5 linked regions of the Homo sapiens genome follow. The protein of the gene in region 5 purifies or fractionates together with the protein of the main gene of each other region. This does not show direct contact. Each region holds a gene or a part of one and is shown on either strand. Other genes may lie near its edges.

Region 1 (3,518 bases), on a different chromosome or scaffold from region 5:
ACTCTTGTTTTATGTTGTACAGAATTTGTTCTAAAATAAAAAAGTTAAAATTTGGCAAGATAAAAACTTTCACATTAAAAAAGAGGTTGGCTTTCCAACATTATTTAGTAGACCAATCTACCCAAAATACTCCTTTCAAATAATATCCAGAAAACTGACATTTTGGTAGGAACTCATTTCAGCATAAATGGGGACATTCACTTAGCACATACACACCAACTGGAATTCAGCTGTTCAACAATATTCTTGCTGAGCACTGACTAGCAAAAATAAAGTTTTTCAGTCAAAATAATGGTCAAGGAGTCTGTGAACCAAAACACCTATTTTACTCAGATTCTTAAGAGTTCCAAACTTAAAGCTCATTTATTCATCACATAGAACTATTACACTAACAGGCTTTTCCAACTGCCTTTACTGCCTTTATGCCTTTTCCAAGCCCATAAATAAGAAGGGGCTTGGGAGATTATGTATATTCAAGCACACAACAGTCTGAAGTGATAATAGGTCAACAAAATGACAAAGTAGATGGGAACTTAAAAAGTCATCATACATTAAATGGCCATGGCCAATTATTTTAAGCTCAATAAAACCTAAGAATACTACAGCATTCTGAATCTTGGGGCTGGAGGGTAGGGTGAGGGGGAGACCATGTAAAGTGATTGGTACATGACAGGTCCTCAATAAATAAGAACCACTATACCACAGTGCAATTATCTTGAACCACAATCACACAAATGAGTAAAATTATATCTGGCACATCCTTTAGGCCACTATGATTCATTTCAGAAAGATTTCTAACTCAAAATAATTACCATCTGGCCCCTCCAGAAAATCCCTGCCTAGGGGTTTCCACTCCCCTTCCAGACTTCCTCACTACACCTCCATACTCCATAGCTCCCAAGTTAACAGGTTATCAATGTGAAACTACATCCCTAGAAGTTTACTAACCAAAATCCAAAGCAAGATTAAACAAAAATGAAATTTTTAGGTGGCAATAAAAAGACTGATAGAGTGGAGTGTAGCCTTAACATTCAATTCTACAATGATGCATTAATTTAAGAACTGTTAGATATTGGTCAAGTGTGGTGGCTCAACACCTGTAACCCTGGCACTTTGGGAGGTCAAGGTGGGAGGATCACTAGAGGCCAAGAGTTCGAGACCAGCCTGGGCAACATAGAGGGACCGTGTCTTTATGACACACAAAAAAGAAAGCTAAAGATTTACATACAATAATTCTTTTTAAAATTTAATACTGGTGGTTTTCGTAGATAACCACCATATCTACAAAATCCTGTCACTTATTTTCTCACTTTATTTCCCTAGGAGAAGAACTTTTAGAATTTTTGAGAGACTCTGGGAGGACAAATAAGTTCCTTAAACATTTTAGATACTGCCTGTTTCATTATTTAAACTGAAAAAAAAGTGGCAAGACATATCCAGTTAAAGATACCATTTACATAAATTTTGTTGTATAAAAAGACCTGTTTATACATACACGAATGTGCAGTTTAAGTACAAAATCACTCATTCATGTGTACATAAACAGGTCTATAATGATTAATTTCAGGATGGTTATGTCGGGGTGCTTTAGCTGTATTTAACATTTTTCATTTGTTAACATTTGTTTAATACGGGTTATGCTCATTTTCAGTTCTTTTCCATTTATTTGAACTACTTTGTAATTTGAAAACAAAGTTACTCCAATCGAGTGACAGTCGTTAAATTATTAAATTATCAGTGTTGGCATGAAACAGTTGTCTACTGAATGGTAAGCATACCTTGATATAAATGGGTTTCCTAATATTCACCAGAGGTACCCAATAAAACTAATGTAACATCCAGTATCAACCAGGATAAACACAAATATCCTCATTTTTTAATAACAGACCTCTTTTCAGTAACAACAATCTAAAGGGTTTTTCTTTTCTTTTCTTTTTTGAGATGGAGTCTTGCTCTGTCACCCAGACTGGAGTGCAGTGGCGTGATCTCAGCTCACTGCAACCTCCATCTCCCAGGTTCAAGCAATTCTCCTGCGTCAGCCTCCCAAGTAGCTGGGACTATAGGCTCGAGCCACCATGCCCAGCTAAATTGTATTTTTGGTAGAGACAGGGTTTCACCACATTGGTCAGGCCGGTCTCGAACTCTTGACCTCAGGTGTTCCACCCTCCTCGGTCTCCCAAAGTGCTAGGATTATAAGTGTGAGCCACCGTGCCCAGCCATTCTATTTTGCTGAGAGAGAGTAAGCTTCACTCATATTCATCACTTTCTGTCCAAAGCTACCATTATCCTGATCAAAAGTGCCATTCAAAACATCATAAAATTTATTTATAACCAGAGATGTTAAGAGGTACTAGTTTGGAGTAACTTGACCTTAATATTTATCTTTTGTGTGACTTATATACGTTCTTTTATCACCACATAGCTGTTCTCAGATTTAGTCTTACTTCTGCTTCACAAGTCAACCAAAGCACAACTAAAATGTACCAAAAGAATGCTTGTATAATAACAACCTCAATTTGTTCATTTGATAATCTCAAATGAAAGCTAACCCAGAATTAAGAAACGGTAAAACTTTTAAAAATTTTATCTTTGTAAAACTCCATACCATCAGATACTTAGGGACATCACTAACAATTTTAAGGTATAATTTACAAATGACAAAATTCACCAATTTAAATGTACAATCCATTTGAGTTCTGACAAGTACATACATACAGTTTTGGAACTAACGTAACTATGATAAATAACTTTTTATCACTCCAAAAACTTCTCTTGGGCTTCTCTGCAGTTAATTCACTACCAATATCACCACTCCCCCATACAGTCCACCAACACTCATCTGCTATTACTACATAGTTTTGCCTTCTCTAGAATTTCACATAAATAGAATCATAAAGAGTGTAGACTTTTATGTCTGAACTACTTTCACTCAGCAAAATGCTTTTGAGATTCATGTATGTTGCATGAATCAGAAATTCCTTTTTATTGGTGAGTATTCCATCATATGTATGTATATATACACACACAGCTAGCCTTTCTCCTGTTAATGGACATTTAGGCTGTTTCCAATTTGGGACTATTACGAATATTCAAGTACCAGTCTTTGGTGGACATGTTTTCATTTCTCTTGGATAAATACCTAGGAGTGGGAATGGGCTGCCTAATCATATGGCAAATGAAGGGTTTATTTTGTTCTTACAAAATAAAATTGCTAAACCATTTTCCAGAGTGATTTTGTCATTTTGCATTCCTACCATAAAAGTATTACAGCTCCAGCTGTTCCACATCCTTGCCAACACTTGATATTGTCAGCTAAAGAGCTGAAGAATTTTTAATACTATTGCCTGCATTGCTTTTTACATCTAATATGATGCAACTATGTCATCTAAGCCACACTGTGCCCTCAAATGCTCTAATACTGGTAACATGTGATCAACAATGTTATGCAGTGAAGGGTCCAATTTAACTTGGCCAAGATCTCAACTGCACAAGTAGCAAACAGCTAACTGCAATGGCCT
Region 2 (3,518 bases), 9.8 Mb from region 5:
CTGGGGCTTGAAGAGCCGAGGGGGGCACAAGGCTTGGTGTGCAGAGCCCCGCATTTGGTGCTGGGTGCTTACCTGACCCCAACTCATAGCGGAACTCCAGGTGGCCGCCCACCATCGCCAGGGACACGAAGTCCTCCACAGGCCCGCTCTTCCCCCCGCTGAACAGCAGGACCCCGTCAGGGGCGAGTGGCTTGAACTCCACGTCCAGGCGTAGCTCGTGGTGTGTGTTGGTGAGGGCGGGCAGTGCCAGGTAGGAGCCAGCACCCGACAGCGAGGGGGTGGTCACTGTCACACCTGCAGCAGCCACAGCTCAGCTGAGGCAGTGGGGATCCTGGACCCTCGGGTGGGGTCCAGCTACTCTGCCTTCCTCTGGGACCCTTGCCTGCCTCACTCTCCAGGCCCAGAGGCTCAGGACCAGTTGGCACCAGCTGCAGTGGCACAGGAGCCCCCCTGCCCTTGCACACGGGGCTGGGAGGAGCTCCAATATGACAGGGGTCCTCTTTGGGGGCCCTCACTCAATAAGGGGCTCAGGCTGGGCAGACATGTGGCCAGGTGACTTCGAGATCCTCTGGCTTGGGAATCGTTTTATCATCCGTAGGGCCCATCATGGCCTCAGAGTGCCCCACCCAGCCTCCCCAGCTGACACTAGGACCCTGGGGGTCTCAGGCCTGGCTCCCCTCACCTTCCTCACACCGCAACCCCGAGCGGCCCAGGTGGCAGCGGCAGGTGTAGCCTCGACCGTCAGGCCGGTTCACACAGGTGGCGTCGGGCCCACAGGCCTCTGGGGGGCACATAGGCCAGTGAAAAGACACGGAGGTGACTCTGGAGGGAGGGGGGTCCTGATGCCAGAGGTCTGCCCATCACACCCCGGGGGGCTGGGCTAGTGAGGGCCAGGCCAGCCTCCTGGGAGGCCTTGGAGGAGGGAACTGAGCAGAGCAAGGCGGGAGCCAGAAGAGGCCACAGGGAGGACTGCAGGGGAAGCAGTCGAGGGACTCTGTGTGTCTGCAGGTTCTTCAGAGACTGGACAGTGTTGGAGGGGGAGCACCTGGTGGCGGGTAATGGGGTGGGCACCTGGGTAATAAGATGGGACTGGGGGCCGGGCGTGGGGGCTCATGCCTGTAATCCCAGCACTTTGGGAGGCCGAGGTGGGTGGATCACCTGAGGTCAGGAGTTCAAGACCAGCCATGGCCAACGTAGTGAAACCCCGCCTCTACTAAAAATGCAAAAAATTTAGCCAGGGGTGGTGGCAGACACTTGTATTCCCAGCTACTCAGGAGGCTGAGGCAGGAGAATCGCTTGAACCCGGGAGGTGGAAGTTGCAGTGAGCTGAGATCGTGCCACTGCACTCCAGCCTGGGCAACAAGAGCGAAACTTCGTCTCAAAAAAAAAAAAAAAAAAAAAAGATGGGCTGGGGGTGGGGGAGTGCCTGGGTGGCGGGGTAGTGGTAAGAATTTGGTCAGCAGGGCTGGAGGAGGGGAAGCAGCAGTGATGGGGTGAGGGCCTTCGGGTAGCAGAGATGGGGGATGGGTACATGGGAGGAGTGGAGAGTGCTCAGGTGAGAGTGGGGGGTGTGGAAGTGCCCCAGTGGTTGAGATGGTGGTGGATATGGGGAGGCAGCAAAGGGAAGAGGCAGGCCCTGGGGCGACAGCGACTGGCGGTCGGGGTGCGTACCTGGATGGCAGTGCAGGGCCTGCGAGTGCTCACAGCGGCTCCCGGTGAAGCCAGCTGGGCAGACGCACACGTAGCTGCTGCTCTCAGAGTCATGGCACTGACCGCCATTCTGCAAAGCAGCCCCCAGAAGTAAGGCCGAGAACATTCAGTACCCCCCATAATCCCCACAGGGGCCAGCCATGGCTAGGGGTGGAGGCCACGGCAGCCAGGTGGTGTGTGGGGTGTGGGGTCACCTGGCAGGGCCGGTCCCGACAGGTGGGGCAGTGGGAGATGCCGTGCGCCGTGAGGTTGAGGTCATGGAAGACGATCTCCTCGCCCTGGATGCGCAGCTCCCGGACACAGCCTGGGAGGTGAGTGGGCAGGATGAGCACAGGGCAGGGTGTCCCAGCCCATACCCTGAGGTGCCCTCCCAGGCTCTCCAGGGCTCTTCCAGCCAGCCAGGTAAGGCCCAGCCTCAGCTGGAGGTGGGGAGGGGGCTCACCTATGAAGCCGCTGCTCAGCCCCGCCTTGGGGATGGCACCATAGTCAGGATAGCCACCCAGGTAGAGTTCCTCGTTCAGATCCAGGCCCTGGAACTTGCCCTGGGGAGGTGGGGAAGTCAGGAATGGCAACAGAGGCTGGGCAAGGGCGGGATGAGGGCTGGAAGTAGCAGTATGGGGTTGGGTCTCACCTGGGAGGTCCCATTGACCGGGGCCAGGTCACCCACAATCAGGGAGCCCTGGGTGAGGCTGCGCAGCAGGGTCACGGTGTGGAAATGGCCCAGGGCCAGTGGTGTGGGATGGCGGATGGTGGCCATGCCTGAGCCTGCATCGAACCTGCTCCGTGGGGCAGGCCGGGGCAGGAGAGAGTGGATAGGGGGTTTGTAAGAAGGGCTAGGGGCCCAGTTGGGTAGAGGGGTCCCAGAGGAGGGATGTCACCACTTCCTGCAGTCCCAGCCCTGGGGCTGTTCCCGTTCCTGTCCCTGTCTTGTCGTCCCTCCCCGTGACCCATCCCCTGGATCTTCTCTCCCCACATCCTTTTGCTGGGAGCTTTCCCAGAGCAGCCCACAGGGACCCCAGGCTCAGCGCCCTGCAGCCTAGCACCTGGCCTCCTTGTTCCTCTGAGGACTCCTCTCTCCCTGTGATCACCTTGTTTCTCTGTTTATGGCTTGTTTATTCTTCCCCAGTGAGAATACACCTCTTCCCACAAGAGCCAGAATTTGGTCTGTTTTGTTTTACCTGTATCAGTGCCTGGCACACATGGGGTGGTCAGCAAATAACTGATGCATGCATGCATGAATGAATGAATGAATGAATGAATCCTGGCCTGCAGCAGTCCCAAGTCTGAGGTTGCACCCTCCTCCACCTGACTGGCATACTATTCCTACTCTAGCAGATTGGGTGGTCACCAAGGGTAACGGCCACATTTTCTCCTTCCTCCAGATCTCCTTTGTATAATGGAGCCCAGGGTAGCACTTGCCAGACCAAAGCCCTGTGTCCAGTCCCCCTGTAGGTGGGGAGGCTGGGGGTCTCACCGGAACTCGGGCCTTCCCCCCACGAGGCCGAAGGAGATGAAGTCGGGCTGCCGGTTGGCCAGGTTGGTGGGGCTCCCTGGGACTCGCTTCTGCCCATTGTACAGCAGCATCCCTGGGTGGGCACCACTGTGTAAGGGGCCCCCTTCCAGCCACAGGCTCCCTGTCCTCCCCCACCCTAGAAACCACCCAAGCTCTTGAGCCTGTCCACTCTCGGAACCTGTCCCTCCCTCTGGCACTCCTCACACAGCCAGGGCCTTCTCACTATCTCAGGGCTGGTGCCCCAAACGCAAGGGCCTTACTGAGCGCCCCTAGAAAGAAACTGAATTTGCTTCAC
Region 3 (3,518 bases), on a different chromosome or scaffold from region 5:
GGAGAGGGTAGTGAGGAGTGACTGCTTTGTGGGTACGGGGTTCCCTTTTGGGGTGATGAAATGTTTTGGAACTAGGTAGAGGTGTGCAACACTGTGAACCTATTAAATGCCTCTGCATTGTATATAATTGTAAAAATGGTGAGTTTGATGTTATCTGAACTTCACCTCAATTAAAAAGGAAAAAAAGTATCATGGATGTAAAAATGTTGATTTAAACTGGGAAAAAGGGGCCCTGCAGTGCCTGTCTCTGGGTAGAAATGGACGGGGACTGGGGAAGCCACTTAGCTTCTTTGAGTCCCAGAGAGCTGGAGGCTGCCCACCAGGTGGTAGGCAGGTGCTACACCCAGGTGGGCCGGCAACAAGGCTGAGGGGGGCTTTTGCATACGCCCTGACGCTGAAAACTCAGGGGTGCAGGCTGAAGTGACACCCCAGGTAGCCTGTATCTTCTATGTCTCAAAAACAAATCTGAGTTGGTAACATTAAAGAAAAAGGGGAGGTGGTGGCGGTGATGTAGGGATCCAGATTTCCAGCTTCCAGAAAGGAAACAGATGTCTCACGGGCCCACAGTTCCATATGGTCAGGACGGGCCGGGGATGGGCGGCCCCTTTGGCTGCCCACTGTCTTCCCTGTTGGCCACAGCCCCCGCCACTCCTTCCTGTTTTAAAACCTCTGCCCACCTGACACATGTCTGGCCCCAGCAGGCACGCACTGCAGTTGTCATCCTTCTCCAGATGTGCCTCATTTAAAGAGAAGGGCCTGGAGCCAGTTAGTGACCCAGGTTTTGTTGGATCCCAAGTGACCCCGAGATGGTGACCAAAGAGGACCAGCTGGAGGCAGGTGGTGGCGGAAGGCAGTGGAAGGAGGGAGGAAAGGGCTCCCTTCTCACGTGGCCCGGGTGCCACCCCCACTCTTGGGGGATGTTTTGTATCTTTCAGTTCTCAGACACCTTGCATCAGAGTCACAAGGGCCGAAGGATCCTGAGGGGCCGGGAAAGGCCTCCCCTCTCCAGCAGAGCCTTGGGCCTTTTCTGACACAGGGCAGCCTTCTCCTGGGCACTTCTCTCCCTCGGTTTAGTCTCCCGATGCAAGTACACAAATTGCCGAGGATGGTCCCTGTGCCAAGCAGGTCCTGCCCCGAGAGGCTCAGGAAATAGACCCAGCGTGTCCTCTCCACTCCTTTTGTCTCAGTCGGCTCATAAGTGAGCTGCTTTGCCTCTTTCCACCCTCCATCTCCCAGCTCTAGATTCAGGGGTCCCTAAACCATGGCCTAAGGGCCCAGGCCAGCCTCCATCTGTCTTTGTGAATACAGTTTCACTGGGTACAGCTGCTCGCATTCCCTTATACCTCTGCAGTCGCAGGGCTGAGTTGCAAAGCCCAAGACCTTTACTCTCTGGCTCTTCACAGAAGCGGTATGCCAGCCCTGTGTGAATCCTTTCCTGGACTGAAGCCACACTACCTGCTCTCCCCATCACTCTGTGTTCATGTCCAGAGTCCTGGAGGTACCCTTCCTGCCACACCAACAGGGAATGGGACAGGACTTCATAACCCGGCGGCCAAGAGCTTTGACTCTGCAATCAGATGGCTCAGGTGCAAACCCCTGAGCACATGTGTGGCCCCGGCGATTTGGGTAACTTCTCAGGATGGTGCCTACCCTACAAAGGCTCCTTGGAGGATGGCACGAAACGGAACTAGTGAAGCATTCATGCCTGATGAGCTGGTGTGGACCAGCTACTGCAGGGGGTGGGGACTCTGCCTGCAGCTGACGTCCTCACCTAAGGTGACAACCCTGGGCCCACTCCCTGCCTCTCCACGCCGGTGACCGCCTGTGTGATGTGGCTGCCCATGCCCATGGTGCTTCTCACCACCCTCGGCCACACCGGTCACCTCTCTGTGACTGGGACTCACCGCCCTGATTCTGAGCACAGGGTCTTTGTACTCCATCTTCCTCCTCCTCAGAACACTTGCTCTCTGGCTGGTCACAAGACCTGCTCCTTTCTGTACTTTGTTCTCATTAAATGTCCATTGAGCGCCATTCTGGAGCCGCCACCCCTCTCTGCTAGTCCCGCCACCGCTGCGTCTCCTTCATGCGTTTTTCACCAGCGGAAGTGGCCCTTTGTTCACTTGTTCACATCTTGTTTCATCCATGAGGTCCAAGTCCGTGTCTCTCCAGGTCAACTCTAATCTCAGTGTCTTGCACAAAGTTCAAGAAATGAATGAACCCCAGTCAGCTGGGCCCATCCCCCGAGTCCTCGTCCCCTTCTCCTGTTCCTGGGTCCCCCTTCTGCTGTGAGCTGGCTGGCTCTGCCTAACCTCCCCACGCCACAGCCAGGATCCCCGTGGATCAAGGTGGGCCAGGGCTTCCCAACCTTACCACTGCGGACACTTTGGGGTCAGATCAAACTCTGTGGTGGGGGCCGTCCTGTGCGTTGCAAGATGTTTTGCCGCATCCATAGCCTCTGCTCACTAGACGCCAGCAGCACCCCTCCATCACACACAATTGTGACAGCCAAAACTGTCTCCAAACATTGCCAAGTGTCCCCTGGGGGACAGAAAGCCCCCAGTTCAGCCTGCTCTAGGCTGACTGCTCAGAAAAGAGGGACAGAGTGTCTTGTCGGAGACTCTAGCAGGGGGAAGAATGCCAGGCAGGAGATGGGGCTGGAGTCCCCAAATCAGCCACGTGACCCAGTCTTTCCTGTCCATCATCCCCTGATGATCACCCCTGCCCTGCTCACAGGGCTGTTGAGAGGTGCAGGTCCCGGCTCTGACATTACACTCACATGAGGATTCTGACCAGGGCTGAGCTGACTCTCAGCTACTTTTAGGTATTTTTCTTTCCTCTAAGCATTAATAAGGGGAAAAGAGCTGAATTTCTCCCTGCCAGATCTTGTATTATTTAAAGATTATCGACTGTGCCACATATTGAAGCAAGGAGATGCTGGCTGTGTAATCCAATCTGGAAACCAATCATTCTGTTCAGCTAGAAAAGTTAATGTAGTAGTTCCTAATCAGCTGGTGAGGAAATGTAACGGAGGGTCATCAGCTGGGAAACGGTGTTTCAGGCAGTGGCTGGGCTGTTATGGAGAGAGACTTATCTGCTCCACGATGAAGACATTTGCTGCCTGGCTGGCTGGACCAGAGGAGATCACTGCGCCTGCCGTCAGAGACCTCAATCTCTAACTAGTCTGTGGTACAATATCATCCGTCTTATAAAGAATGGAGACTTTTTGTTTTTTTTGAGACAGTCTTGCTCTGTCACCCAGGCTGGAGTGAAGTGGCATGATCTCAGTTCACTGCAACCTCCCGCTCCCAGGTTCAAGCCATTCTAGTGCCTCAGCCTCCTGAGTAGCAGGGACTACAGGCGCCCACCACCATGCCTGGCTAATTTTTGTATTTTTAGTAGACACGGGTTTCACCTTGTTGGCCAGACTGGTCTCGAACTTCTGAGCTCAGGCAATCCGCCTGCCTTGGCCTCCCGAAATGCTGGGATTACAGGCGTGAGCCACTGTGCCCGATCAGGAA
Region 4 (3,380 bases), on a different chromosome or scaffold from region 5:
CTGCAGGGCCTCTGTGCACAGCCTGCCCAATTTTGGGAGCTGGGTTGCACCTGCTGTGTAGCACCTGCCCACACTCCTTTGGCAGTTCAGGTATCCAGCCTTCTGGCCTGTGCTGTGGGACAGTTCTGGGACCCCTGGGCTGGTCCTGGTCTTACCTGTCAGTCAGTGCCAGTTCCTGCAAAATAAATGTAAACAAAGGCAAGAGGTGAGATCTGAATGCGTGCCGACGCCCTCATTCAATTGTGGTTTGAGTGGAGTTGGTGCCAAGGTGGTCCTACCTACCCTCTAGTTTGCTGGGCCCTAGCATGCTGTTGACACAAGGGGAAGTCCCCTGTGTCTGGGTGAGTCGCATGGGCCAGCCACCCCCCCACTGCCACTGGGAATTGCTGGGAGCCCCTGTCCTGTGAACGGATGCCCTCTTGCTTTGATAAGCTGCCTGGTGGCTGTTGTTTAAATCTAGACTTCCCATCCAGCCCTCGCACAACTCCTATGCCTTCTGACAAGTTTCAGTAAAAACCACAGGAGTTCAAGAAAGATTATGACTCCTGTTCCGTTACTTTTTGTGATCTCCTTAGATTGCTTCTCCCAGATGGTAGGAGCTGCCCCTTTTGGAGTCTATTGAAGGAGGTGCCCTGGTGGCCACACTGGGCTGGAGGGGATCTGAGGACCCATGTCCACCGGAGAAAACCACGAATGTACCTGAAGCTCTGCTTCTGGCCACTGAACATAGGAAGCCTGCTGCTCAGGGCCCAGGTGCTGTGGGTCAAAGGAAACACAGACACGTTTCATAAATCTTTCTTTTATTCCAAGTTTCAAGTATGTGTAAGTGTCTGTGATGACACATGGTGCTCAGTGAGCGCCCTGTCACCCAGGACCCTGGTTATAGCACCGTTGAATCAAAAACCCACAGAATTGGAACAACAGGAAGATGAGTCACTTACACAGTGGGTTGGTTTTTCCTTAGATTTGTACTTCCAAGGGCCCAGATGTCCAATATTAAATGCCAATAAATTTGTGCTTCAAAAGTCTGTGAAAATATAATAATAGTATCTTGAAAAACAAGGGGTGGGGGCTGTGGATAGGGAAGCACCAAGTCTGAGCTCACCAAATCAGAAAACACGTGGCACCATTATCTATGTGACTATAATAGACTGGAGGGTTTCATTGGAAGAGAGGTCTAGATATTCAAGTTTGCTGAAAATGACCTAAGAGGAGGAGAAATGGGGTTCGGCCTGACCCTCTCTGGGGGGGCTGATGAGCCCGCATTTGTCCACGTGTCACTGGAGAAGAGCGCGGCTCCACTGTGTCTGTGGTGAGCTCGGTGGCTTGAATGGGACAAGCTGATGACAACCTGTCTGTGGGCCTCATCCCGGTCAAGACTGGCTCTTGGTGCTGCTCCAGCAGCTCTGTGGACAAACCCCACCCCCGCAAGGCCTTCTCAGGCCCCAAGGGTCAGGTAGCAGCCCCCCATGAATGATGGGAGGGTCCCTTTCCTCCTGAGCTTAGACACAGCTGTAGGGGTCTGGACAGGGTGGGGGCCGGGCTGGGTGAGGGCACGTGGCATTCGTTCAGACTCAGTTGTTGGGGGGAAGTCCCATGGAAGATGTGGTGTGGCCTGAAGACAGGAGTTGACCACGCAGGCTTCTTTACTGCGGGGACAGCTGGTTGTTTAAGAGCCCGCTGAAGTGCTCAAACTTTTTTTCCGTCTCTTCGCTGAAGGAACCACCTGAAGAGCGAGAATCGGGTAGAGAGAGTGGACAAATGAGATGCTCGGGCCTTGCCTGACCCTGAGCCAGGGGAGTGGGCCTCAGGGGCTGCTGGGGCCACCTGTGTGTGCCCTCCTCAAAAGGACAGGTGCCAGGCACTGGCCATCTCTAGGGCTGGGCACATAGCAGGTGCTCTGTCAAAGTTGAGTGAACGAGTGAATAAATATAGCGCCTTTAATTTTAACCTTTTGCCAAGAGTGAGGCCCATGACTTTTCCTGCAGAGGAAAAAGCTCTGCCTTCCCTTTTGTTCCCCAAGTCCTATCATCCAAGGAAAAAAGTGTCTTTATTGGAGACTAGAAATAACAGTAGTTTGCTAGCTTCCAGCTCTCGACAGAAAAACCTGATAGGCAGAGCCCACAGATTGCTGATGCCCACATTTTTGAGGTCACATACATAATGAGCCAGTGGCCTCAGCTCCAACCCTTAAAAAGCCTTGGGGTCTGCACTGGGCTGGCCTGGTCCTGTACCATCCTCTATCCGTGGCCGGAGCTGGCTGTAAAAACTCAGTCTCCATCCAGGCCTGTGTGTCTGTGGCTTCTGTCCTGAATGTGGAAATGTGATGCTGGCTGCATTCCCCGAGCTCTTTACCCAAATTAGGAAGCTGCCTCTGGGTCCTTGAGAAAGTAGGGCAGCTCCCGCCTGCTTCCTGGAGTGGGGGCGGCCTGGCCTTACCTATGTGGCAGTTGTACATCCAGATGCGGTGGCCGTCATAGCGGCTCCTGCATTTCATGATGTTGTTGGAGTAATCGGATTCTGCAACCTCGAAGTTGGGGTTAATAACAACCTAGGGAGAAGCAGGGCAGAGGAGGCTGCTTGTTCCCTCTGCGGCCACCTCCACCCAGGCCTGGGGCTCTGAGAGACCAGCACCTCAGGGAAGGGGAGCGTGGCAGGTGCCGGGACCCAAGACGGGGGTCTGTGGGTCTCAACAAAGTCCTTGGGGAGGGGAAGAGATGAGTCAGGGAGCAGAGGAAGCATGGCCTGGAAGAGGGAAACCCTGCCCTCTGTCCATATCCGTGTAACACACACCCCTCTACCCAGGGTGGGCCTTCGGAAGGGGGTCACCCACTCCTGGGAGTTCTGGGGAAGGCAGAAGTTGGGGTCTGGGGAGGCCCCAAAAAGAAGATGCTGAAGAGAAGCAGAAGGGTGCAGGGAGGACCTGGCGGTGTGGGAACCTGGAAGAGGGCTGCCTGGGCGTTGGAGATGGGACACTCGTCACAGGCGTGTGACTGTGGACATGTCCCTTCCTCTCTCTGTAAAGTGACAGGTGGGACTTGGGGATCCATGTCCCTGTCTGCTCTGCTGGCCGAGGGCCTGGCTCTGGGGCTGCTGGAGAAGTTGCACCCTCTCCCCATCCTTCCACCCACCCCTGTATCCGCATCCCCCCAGCTACAGCAGGAATAGGAAGGACATATTCTGGGAGAGTGTCTGTGAGGGAACAGAAAAGGGGAGGTTTACGGTGAGGACCCGAGGAGAAAAGAGAAAGGGAGGGAGAGGGAGAAGAGACAACAGTGGTGAACAGAGGGGCAGAGGACACAGATGACAGGCCTTCCCTCGAGGGTCCTGCCACATTTGGAAGGGCTGCGACCCACAGCAGGGGGGCGGGTACAGGCTGC
Region 5 (3,518 bases):
CCTTCCCCACCCCTCCTGGCTTGGGCTGGGCTATTCCTCCCAGCTATTCCTGCTGTCACTGCAGAGTCAGAGGGAGAAGGGGGCGCCAGGAAGGAAAGCTCTGACTGCAGCATCCGCTGCCCTGAGCGGATGAGGGTCAGGGATGGCTGAGCGGGCGGCCAGCCAGCCTCTAGCAGGGCCTTCCCTGAAATGTGGCCCCTTTTTCCTTCCCCACCCCTCCCCACCATTCCCAGTAGGAGGAGGAAGGGGTCATGGGTACCCCCCTATTCAGTCTGAGATGGGAAGTGGAGAAGGGCCAGGTAGGAAACCCTGAAAGCCTTAATAGAAATAATGGGGAGCCTGCGACTTGGAGGAGGCGGCCCTGCACCCACTCCACCCCCACTCCCTCTTTGCCTGGGACTAAGAGGCCCCAGAGAGAAGGAAACTTTTTGGAATGCATTGCGCATAAGATATTTCCATTGCCTCACTAGGGTGAGGGGTGCCCGGGTCACAGTGAGGGAGGGAACGTTTCAGCATGTGTCTGGGTGTTCAGCGTGACTGTGTGTGCACTGTGTGTGTGTGTGTGTGTGTGTTCAAAAGGATAAAACATGCCTGGCCCGCGTCTGCAGGTTCTGATAGGATGGCTCTGGACGTTGAGGGGTTAATGCGCTCTCTCTCTCTCTCTCTCTCTCTCTCTCTCTCTCTCTCTCTCTCTCTCTGTCTCTCTCTCTCTGTCTCTCTCTGTCTCTCTCTCTCTGTCTCTCTCTCTCTCACTGCTGTCCCTGGCCCCTTAGGCCCCCTCTGGAATGCTGGGACCTGCTACCACCGGCCCTGCCTGGACCTGTGTGGGCAGCCCTGGGGGCAAAGGAGGAGATGGCAGGAAAGGACAGAACAGTCTACTGCCCTCTCCTCATGAAGGCTCTGGGGGCGAGGGTGGGGGAGTGTCCAGGGTGTCAGAGCCCTCAAAGGATGCTTCCAGAGTCTAGTCGGGTGCTGCTGCCTAGGTGTGCAGAGGGGGAACAGCCTGGTGTGCAGAGAGGGAAAGGAAGGATGAGGAAAGCCTTCCCGGCCCTGCAGACTCCTCTGGCCCTCCCCAGCAGTGCCCCCGCCTCTCCTGGGGCTGGAAAGCCCAGCCATACTGGGTCTTGGCTCCCCTTGAGGCTCCTTAAAAGGCAACATTGGAGGTGGGAGCCTTGGACAGCTTGCAAGGAGGCAGTTCAGCATCTTGTAATAACAGAGTTATGAGCTTGTAAAAGCATTATAGAATTCATAGAATGCAGCCCTTCAGTCGGCACCTATTATTAAAGACCTACTGCGTGACAGGCACTATGCTGAGCTCAGGAGATGGAGCGGGAATGCAACAGACACAGTCCTTGTCCCATTTCTAGTGTAAGGTGAAGGGCATGGGAAGACAACAAATGAGTATATTCTGACAAGCTGCCCAGTGTTATAGGGAAAAGAGAGGATAACGGGGGTCCCAGTTTAGAGTAGGGAGTGGGTGGGAAAGCTACTCTGAGGAAGGGACATTTATGCTGAGACCAGGGAGAAGGATAGGAGAGGCCTGGCCTAGGCAGAGGGAGTGGCTCGTGGGAAGGCCGGGAGGTGACTGAGCTCATTTTAGCTGGAGCTGGGGTAGGGGAGAGACGTCCCAAGGAGGTGCAGGCCACGTTCCGTGGCTCACATCAGCTGTGCCCAGGATTCTGCATTTTGTTTGGAGTCACAGGAAGCCACGTAGAGAGCACACGGTCTGATTTACGTTCTTCAAAGATCTCTCTGGCTTTGGGGTGGGTAGGGAGGGGATGGCCGGGAATTTTAAGGGGTAGCAGACTTGGTGAATAAGGCAGTGCCGGGGTCCAGGTGAGAGGTGATGAGGGACGGGAGTAGGGTGGCCACAGTGGAGGGGCGAGAGGTAGGTGGATTCCTCATGTGCCATCTCCAAGCCCTGCTGATGGGGGACATGTGGGCGGACACCACAGACCACCTGGAGCTCTGATGTGAACAACTGGGTGCCATTTTCAGAGTTGAAGATGTTAGGAAAGAGCAGGCTTGTGGGAGGCAGACGGGCTATTTTGAGTTTGAGATGCCTTTTGCACATCCAGAGATGTCAGAAGGTCAGTGGGATATGAGTCTGAAGCTCTAGAGAAGTGGGGTCTGGGATTCCTGTAACAGAATGGTGATAGTAGATATTAATTCTGAGCACTTAATGATGGACCAGGCCCAGTGCTAAATGCTTTACAAGCCTATCATTAAATCCCTGGAAAGTGGTACCACTGTATTATCCTCATTTTATAGACAAGGGCATTGAGAGAGACAGAGCTTGAATGATTCTCCTAAGATCACACAGCCAGTGGGCTGAAACCCAGAATCTGAATTCCAGAACCCATGCTCTTAGTCAATTCAGCATATGGCCTCAGTCATTGACTCAGTTAACAAATATTCATTGGGTGCTTACTATGTGCTAGGCTTTGTTTTCCTAGGCGCTGAAAATACCAAACAATACCTGCCCTCAAGGAATTTACAGCCTATGAGGAAACAGGGATAAGCAATATAAACAGGCCGGGCCTGTGGCTCACACCTGTAAATCTCAGCACTTTGGAAGGCCAAGGCGGGTGGATCACTTGAGGCCAGGAATTTGAGACCAGCCTGGGCAACATAGCAAAACCCCATCTCTACAAAAATTGCAAAATTTAGCTGGGTGTGGTGGTGCACTTGTAGTCTCAGCTATTTAGGAGGCTGAGGTGGGAGGGCCACTTGAGCCTGGGAAGCAGAGACTGCAGTGAGCCGAGATCACACCACTGCATTCCAGCCTGGGCAACAGAGCAAGACCCTGTCTCAAAAAAAAAAGCGGGGAGGAAGGGGAGCAGGCAGATTGGTGTGAACCATCAGGGGCCAGCCTAGTTGGAGCCTTAGAACCAGAACTTGAAGGAGGAGGGGATCAGGGGACAGGAGGACAGAGCGTGCAGGGCCTTGTTGTCACCAAACTTTGGCTCTTATTCTGTGATGTGAAGCCAGTGGAGGGTTTTGGGCAGAGGAACGACATGATATGACTTAGGTTTAGCAGGGTCACTCTGGCAGCTGTGTTAAAAATACCCTGGGAAGCAGGGCAAGGGGCAGATGCATGGAGCACCCACAGTGAGGAGGCCACAGCAGGAATCCAGGTGAGAGGTGATCGGACTTGGGCGGGCTGCAGGAGAGAATGAGAGTGGTTCGGATTCTGGATGCATTTTTAAGGTAGACCCATAGGATATGCGGATGAACTGGATCAGCATGGGAAAGGAAGTCAGCGGGGACTGCCAGGTTTGGGGCCCAAACTCCAGGAAGGATAGAGTTGCCGTTTTCTGAGAACTGTAGGGGGAATAAGTGAGGGGGGTCAGGAATTCGGTTCAGGGAGTGTTTTGGTTCAGGGTAGTGATGTTGAGTAGCCGTGAGATCCTTGACTCTGGTGTTCAGGCAGAGATCTGGGCCACAGATATAAACTTGAGAATCATGAACTAGACGTTGACATTTAAAGCCACCAGGCTGGATGGGATCACCTAGAG

Evidence for each region.
Region 1: the proteins of TINAGL1 (region 5) and AKIRIN2 purify together in Homo sapiens (co-immunoprecipitation; one large-scale study listed by IntAct). This does not show direct contact.
Region 2: the proteins of TINAGL1 (region 5) and HSPG2 purify together in Homo sapiens (affinity purification with mass spectrometry; 3 studies listed by BioGRID and IntAct, with this or other methods). This does not show direct contact.
Region 3: the proteins of TINAGL1 (region 5) and SULF2 purify together in Homo sapiens (co-immunoprecipitation; one large-scale study listed by IntAct). This does not show direct contact.
Region 4: the proteins of TINAGL1 (region 5) and LOXL2 purify together in Homo sapiens (affinity purification with mass spectrometry; 2 studies listed by BioGRID and IntAct, with this or other methods). This does not show direct contact.

What each region holds. Positions count from the first base shown.
Region 1 is NC_000006.12:87,681,734-87,685,251, forward strand, and holds part of AKIRIN2 (akirin-2), read right to left. Parts: intron 31-3,518; coding exon 1-30. UniProt on the Homo sapiens protein: Molecular adapter that acts as a bridge between a variety of multiprotein complexes, and which is involved in embryonic development, immunity, myogenesis and brain development.
Region 2 is NC_000001.11:21,829,311-21,832,828, forward strand, and holds part of HSPG2 (basement membrane-specific heparan sulfate proteoglycan core protein isoform b precursor), read right to left. Parts: intron 3,297-3,518; coding exon 3,185-3,296; intron 2,487-3,184; coding exon 2,342-2,486; intron 2,253-2,341; coding exon 2,153-2,252; intron 2,015-2,152; coding exon 1,905-2,014; intron 1,781-1,904; coding exon 1,672-1,780; intron 782-1,671; coding exon 683-781; intron 295-682; coding exon 73-294; intron 1-72. UniProt on the Homo sapiens protein: Integral component of basement membranes. Component of the glomerular basement membrane (GBM), responsible for the fixed negative electrostatic membrane charge, and which provides a barrier which is both size- and charge-selective.
Region 3 is NC_000020.11:47,666,979-47,670,496, forward strand, and holds part of SULF2 (extracellular sulfatase Sulf-2 isoform a precursor), read right to left. Parts: intron 1-3,518. UniProt on the Homo sapiens protein: Exhibits arylsulfatase activity and highly specific endoglucosamine-6-sulfatase activity. It can remove sulfate from the C-6 position of glucosamine within specific subregions of intact heparin.
Region 4 is NC_000008.11:23,296,397-23,299,776, forward strand, and holds the end of LOXL2 (lysyl oxidase homolog 2 precursor), read right to left. Parts: intron 2,552-3,380; coding exon 2,440-2,551; intron 1,727-2,439; coding exon 1,647-1,726; 3' UTR 501-1,646; downstream 1-500. UniProt on the Homo sapiens protein: Mediates the post-translational oxidative deamination of lysine residues on target proteins leading to the formation of deaminated lysine (allysine).
Region 5 is NC_000001.11:31,579,515-31,583,032, forward strand, and holds part of TINAGL1 (tubulointerstitial nephritis antigen-like isoform 1 precursor), read left to right. Parts: intron 1-3,518. UniProt on the Homo sapiens protein: May be implicated in the adrenocortical zonation and in mechanisms for repressing the CYP11B1 gene expression in adrenocortical cells. This is a non catalytic peptidase C1 family protein.